Linked DNA regions of Homo sapiens: region 2 is reported to be linked to region 1. The links are microRNA targets in miRTarBase. Many come from high-throughput screens and were not tested one by one. Region 1 holds a microRNA gene; the other region holds the end of a gene's coding sequence.

Region 1 (3,418 bases):
ACACAGGAAAACAGTGGGCTGTACTCCAGTGCTGGGACATTGAATGACTGTATGCTGCTTTTGATTTCCGTTAATATGGGCAACTGTCCAATTAAAAAAAAAACTCCTAAGGACTCTGCAGTGCAAATTGTTTTGCTGATTGTTTTAAAACACCATACCTATCAACTCATCAAGGCAAATGGGGCAGCGGGGGACTGGGTTCGTTCCCTGAATCCTGGACTGCTATAGAGCTCAGGGCAACATTTGCAGAAAACCTGAGCCTATGAGATGGGAGTTATAGGCAGCTTTCCTGAGGCTGTGTAAGATGAAAATAAAACTAGGTTCAAAAAATATGTTTGGGGAAGATCAATGAGTTTATCGATAGAAGTTAAAAGACTTGAGTCTGGCTATATGCAAGTTGGCATATGTTTTTAGAGATCTTTTTTCCCATTGGCCTGCAGTATGACTTAATCTCATAACCCTAGAATTTTATATATGCATTTGTATTTAGAGTTATTACATGACTCTTAAGCAAAAAAGAGTATATATACATCAAGTGTAGCAAACGTGTATCTCCCTGCCCCCCTACATCCCACTCAGGCCCACCCATTAGTTACTCCTCAGTGAATAAACAAGGATCGGCTAGCTCTTTCATAATATTTCACCTATCTGCCACCTTTTCCCTCCTCCCCAGCTCCACAGCTGATCTCTTTGGCAAGTTCAGCCAGGCTTAAAACCCCTGTGGGGATAGTAAATTGAGCCAAGAGGGAGGAGCCCCGAAAGACTTCCACTTCCTGTGGTTGCTTGGGCCTTTGAGCACTCCCCCTTCCACTACTGAGCTCTATAATCTGAGCAGTTGGTGGGTGTTTGGAAACATGGCCTTGGCTCCACTGCTGGAGTCAGGGAGCTCAGAACACTGCAGCAACCTGCCAGTGAGAGTCTGGGTTGCTTTGAAGCCTGAGTCTCCCAAGGCAGCTCCCTCACCTGTTCCCCCATGTCCACCCCCACCTGCCATCCAGACAAGACTATTACCCTAAGACCAGACCTTCTAAAGGCGTGGCCACAGAATCATCAGTATCCCAACATCTTGCCTTTGTATCGTGTGTTTACATACTTTTCCAAATACTTTGTTTTTTCTTTTTTTTCTTTTTTTAATTTGTGACAACCTTGAAAGACAAACAGAGTTAAGGCAGTCCAAAAAATAATTACAGACAAGAAAACTGGGGCCTCTGGAGGTTAAGGATTTGTCTGAGGCTACTCTCTGGGGGCTCTTCCTCCAGGCCTCATACTGTGTTCCTTATGTCATTACCTGTTCATCAGAACCGACTATGCAGTAGTGACCAGAGCAGGAAATGGAGGTGAATGTGTTTGGTTACAAAAATTCCCGGTGAAACTGGCTAGTCTTATGATGAGCTTTGGCCTATACATTGGACACTTCCTGGGTGAGGCCCAAGATTGGCCCCAGGATTACTAAATAGTGACTATAAGTTACCCAGCCGTGTACAAGTCAATCTGCACAAACCAAAAAAGCATGATTTAAATTCATTTTAAACCTCTGTCCCATGTTTGTTATTTTCTGTAGATTCAATCAAATTATCTTAAGGAAACAAATGAAGTGTCAAGCTATAGGGGTTGACTTAATCTAGTCACTCACTCAATGGAACCTTTTTCAGCCATTGCAAATAATAATGATAGAGAATATACAGAAACCTGGAAAATGCTTATGATATCAACTTAAAAAAAATCAGGGCCACAAAATCACATGGACACCATGATTGAAAAATAGGAGCAGAACCTGGAGGAAACCTGCAAAACAGACATACTTGTTACTTAAGGGTGGTGGGATTAGAGCTGAAGTTTCTTCTTTCTCTACTTTTTCATGGTTTTGTGTGTGTGTGTGTGTGTGTGTGTGTGTGTGTGTGTGTGTGTGTGTGAGATGCCACGTTTTCTTGTTATGTTGTCAAAATATAATTCTCTAAAAAGTCTTTAGGGGTCATGGGTGATACAGAAATTTGGGATCGGTCAAGGATGCACAGATCTCAGACATCTCGGGGATCATCATGTCACGAGATACCAGTGTGCACTTGTGACAGATTGATAACTGAAAGGTCTGGGAGCCACTCATCTTCATAGCAAAACATGTGGTAAGTATTACAAGACGAATCAATGAAAAGATCAGGAGGAAAGTGGGCCCTAAGCAAAGAAGAAAGGGGTTGCTATGGGATGGGGTGGGAGGATGAGTTGTGTTTTCATAGGAGTGTAATGGGAATGCCTTTATTTGTGTCTTTATTGCTTTAAATGTTTGTTGAATGAATTGAAACTTACATAAGGTATATGATTTTATACTTGTGCTAGAATGCTAAAATAAAGAATTTATGCTCAAGCAAACAACTGGAAAACACTTTGCTATAAGCATTACAGACACAGGGTCATTTTTAGTATGTTGAGTCCACACAAGTGGTCAAGAAAAACCATAAAAACTACATGAACAGAAAGCCCCAGTTAAAAAAAATGCATAAAGATGCTCATTTCAATATTTTAAGGATGGAAGTTAGGAACATCCTGAATGACCAACAACAAAGGATTAGACAAATAAAATACAGCGTAGCTAGCTAGTACAATAGAATAGGATGCTTTCATGTAAAATAATGTTTCTGAAAGTAATTTTCATGTCATGAGAATGTGCTCCTGATAAAACATTTAGCGATTGAAAAAAGGTGCAAAATATTTTCCCATCTCTGCAATATAGGTATATAGGGAGCATTCTGTATGAATAGTTTTGTATCAACATACAGATAAAAGGCTAGGAGGAAACATATAAAAACTTTATTGTGATTATCTCTGAGTTGTGGTATAAAGGTGACCAAAGAAAGATGCTAAACTATTTTTGCGATGTGTTCCTAATATGTAATATAAATGTATTGGGGACATTTTGCATTCATAGTTTTGTATCAATAATATGGGGAAAAGAGGCTATCAGGAAGTATACCAAAAGTCTAGAGGTGGTTATCGCTGACTTGTGTCACTATAGGCAATCAAAAACGATACTAAACTGTTTTTGCGATGTGTTCCTAATATGCACTATAAATATATTGGGAACATTTTGCATGTATAGTTTTGTATCAATATACAGATGAAAAGATGGAGGGAATAAGCAAAAAATCTAACAGCGGCTATCTGTGGTTTACTTCTGTGATAAATGTAAGATGCAGAATTATTTTTGCAATATGTTCCTGAATATGTAATATAAGTGTATTGGGATCATTTTGCATCCATAGTTTTGTATCAACATATGGAGAAAAGTCTAGGAAGAAATATACCAAAACTTGTAACAGTATTATAGTATAAAATTATAGGTAATGTTTGTTTTTCTCTTTATACTTTTATGTATTTTCCAAGTAATATTTGCATAAACAATAAAATGCATTGCTTTTATAGC
Region 2 (3,418 bases), not on the chromosome of region 1:
GCATAGAGCTTACCCAGCAGCTTCAAGAAGAATACAAGGATGCCACTGTTTCTCTAAGTAGCTCCAGACAGACATTAAAGGGTGATCTCCAGCTGTCAGATGAGCAGAGCAGCTCCCAGATCACAGGAGGCATGATGCAGTTGCTTATGAACAACCCCTACCTGGCAGCTCAGATTATGTTGTTCACAAGTATGCCCCAGCTGAGTGAACAGTGGAGGCAGCAGCTGCCCACATTCCTGCAGCAGACACAGATTTCTGATCTGCTTAGTGCTTAGGCAACCCTAAAGCATTCCAAGCAATATTGCAGATTGAGCAGGCCCTCCAGCTGCTGGCCACAGAGGCTCCTGTTCTTCTGCCTTGGGTTGCACCCTACCTATGGGGCCTGGGTTGGCTTCCTGCCCCCAGCTGCAGCTATCCTGACACAGTGCCCTGTTCCTGGAATGTTTCAGATACAGCTGAGCCCAAGGGACCTGAGTGCTGCCACAAGCCTGGAACAGTCCTGCAGAGGCTACAATCCCCGGATGGGGACCCTTCCCACCCTCTGCAAGCTCCTGAGATTTGTTTTAGCAAACAGATGGATTCTCTCCAGGCCATGGGATTTGGGAACCACCATGCCAATCTACAGGCACTCATTGCTACTGAAGGGGACACCAATGCTGCTATCCGCAAGCTCAAGAGATCCCAGAGATTCTAACCACCATGCCTACTTGTTTGCTTGCTACCTGCCTGCTGACCCACCTGACCATCTCATTTGCCTTTTGCACCTTTCCTGATGCTTCCAGCCAGGAGAAGTCCTGGAATAAGAGTTATCAACCAATGTGTCTTGTACTGAATAATAGATCATTGGTCGTGGCTGAAACATCTGTCAATAAAATGGCTACACTCACTTGCTGCGATCTGAGGTTTGGCTTTACTTCTTTTGCAAAAAAAAAAAGAAAAAACTAGCTGTGTGAGATTTTTGTCTCACCTACTATATGTACATTAACACACAAACCACATGCATATATTAATATAGAGATAAAAATAATGTTTTTATCTCTAAAACATGAGCATTTTGAGCATGGTATATGAAACTTGAGCATGGTATATGAAACTGATTATTTTGAGCATGTCACCTTGGACAGGTGTGTGTATGTACACAAGCTCACATAGTAAAAAATTCACATATACAGGCATATAGAGTCCACATATGAGTACACACAGCCATGTGCAAACACAGATGCAAATACCTAGAGACACATAAATAGACCCATATGTAGGGAAAACAATCATAACATGCTCAAACAGAAAGGGAAACATTTTACATAGATAGGCCCAGATATTTAGTCATAAAGACTGCCTGAATTTCTCAAACCCAAATTGTTCAAGTTTGAAAGTGGAACAGGAATAATATGAGGGCCAGAGTAGGGTGAATTCACATATTAACCAAGTCCGGATGAATAGTTATCATCATTGGAACCTCCTGCTCGTTGATTTTGCCACCATTATAAGATGGTGATGGGCTGTCTCTACTGTCTCTTTAGCACACAGAGATGCAGCTGCTGCCATCTCCACTGTATATCCCAGTCACCACAAATCCAGCCCTCCATGGGGCACAGCACCTTCCAAGAATATCACCTCCTTCAGTATATCTATCTTATGTTTGTAGTTTACATTTTCCATGGTTGCCAATGCCCCACCTTTTTCTCTTTCTGCCTCACCTAGAGTATCCCACCATGGCAGGATATGCAATTATTTGTGTTTTAATGATTCCATGATTAAATAATTTAAAACACTTTTACCATAATAATTCAATGTTGTTTTAGGCATTGAAAAAAATAGCAGTGAAAAAAACAAAGATCCTTTATTTATTGACTTTACTTTCTTTTGTGGAGATACAAGTTATGTTAAGTGGTAAGTGCTGTGAAGAAAAATGAATCAGAATAAGATATTCTACATAGGGTGATGAGGGAAGGCCTCTCTGAAAAGGTGACATTTGAGCAGAAGTCAGAAGTAACTACGAGAACTGAACATGCAATTCACTGGGAGAAGGAAGATCCAGGGGCTGTCTGAAAGTAAAAGGCCCAAGGTAGCAGTATTCCTGCTATGTTTTAAGAATAACAAGGAGGTGATGTAGCTGAAATGGACAAAAAGGAGCGGGGAATGGGGAGGAAGTCAGAGAGATTGTGAAAAGTTTTATAGGTCTGGTGAAAACTTTGGATTTTACTGTGAATGTAATAGTCACTGGTGAGTTTTGAGCAAATAAATCAAATAATTCAATTTATCAGTCTGGCTTCAGAGTGGAGAATGGACTGTGGTAGAGGAAAACCAGGGAAGCAGGGAAACCAGTTAGGAGGCTTTTATGATAGAGCAGTTGAGAAACAGTAGTTTCTTGCAGTAGGGTGGGAGCAGGGGAGGTGTTGAGGAGTAGATTCTGGACTCTAAAGGGGACCCATCCACAGAGATTTGTGTGCTCAACAGACCACCCCTTCTGAGCCCCAACATGGCCATCGGTAAGAGTGAAGGGCGGGCCTACAAACTTCCAAGTGTTTCTAGAAAGCTCACTGCCAAAGACCCCTACTTCATGTCTACACCTACCAAAAAGATAAGTCTCAATAAATAAATTACAGTGAAAATGGATTTTTTACCTCCCCATTTAATATGATTAAGCTTCATACCCTCTTTGCTACAGCTTGCATAAAAAGCTCAGGCTATCCAGGTCATCTTTTTTATTTTCATCACAATATGCTCTGAAAATTCCTCACTTGACTCATTTTTCTACTCGTCACCAGTTTTCCAGCCTCTTCATCCTACCATTTAGAAGTCATAATTTAGCAATAGAAAAGCCCACATATCTACAACCTTCTTCCTAAGGATGACTACACCTTTTTGCTATAATGGAGATCTGAATGTCTAGTGAAGACACTGCTTCTCCAGCAGTGGCTACATCTGTGTTTCCCTTGGACTTGGAAGTGGATAGATGTCACTCTTGCACCATCTTGCTGCTTCTCAGCCCAGTTTTCTGGCTCCAAGATTATTTCATGATGCATGAAGATAATAATTGTGGCATAATACTTGCCTAGTTAACTTATCATGGTGATACTCAACTCTTCACCTAGTCTCTGTTTAGGCAAAAAACGGCATACAGCTGTGCTGACTAGTTTCATTTAAACTTATTACCAAAAGATTTAATTACCGTCTTAGTAATTCTAACTGCATTTTCCCAGTCCAGTGATTCTCACCAGAATCTGCACCAGGATCACCTGGAGGGCGTGTTAAAACACAGATTTCTGCCCGACATTCCAAGGGTGTTAGATTCAGTAGGTCTACCGTTGGGTTAAAATCTCTAATTTCTAATAAGTTTCCAGGTGATGCTAATGCTGTCAGTTTGGAGATCATACCTGGAAATCCACTATCCTAGTTAATTCACTACCTTATT

What was found. Region 1 holds the annotated microRNA hsa-miR-542-5p (UCGGGGAUCAUCAUGUCACGAGA, at 2,028-2,050, shown strand). A microRNA usually pairs through its seed, bases 2 to 8, with sites in the 3' UTR of a target mRNA and lowers its output. Matches are read on the target gene's strand: a 7mer-m8 pairs with bases 2 to 8, a 7mer-A1 pairs with bases 2 to 7 and ends in A, and an 8mer does both.
Region 2: the mRNA of UBQLNL is a reported target of hsa-miR-542-5p. Seed matches in the 3' UTR shown: 7mer-m8 at 514-520.

Annotation. Positions count from the first base shown.
Region 1 is chrX:134,540,032-134,543,449 of GRCh38, reverse strand. MIR542 (microRNA 542) reads left to right here and starts at 2,013; the gene lies at 2,013-2,109. MIR450A1 (microRNA 450a-1) reads left to right here and starts at 3,019; the gene lies at 3,019-3,109. MIR450A2 (microRNA 450a-2) reads left to right here and starts at 2,843; the gene lies at 2,843-2,942. It overlaps MIR450B (microRNA 450b), which reads left to right and starts at 3,188; the gene lies at 3,188-3,265. It also overlaps MIR503HG.
Region 2 is chr11:5,511,871-5,515,288 of GRCh38, reverse strand. UBQLNL (ubiquilin like) reads left to right here. Exons shown (of 1, transcript NM_145053.5): 1 at 1-896. The coding sequence ends at 275. Among named protein-coding and RNA genes, the nearest start is that of UBQLNL, 3.1 kb to the left of the region's middle.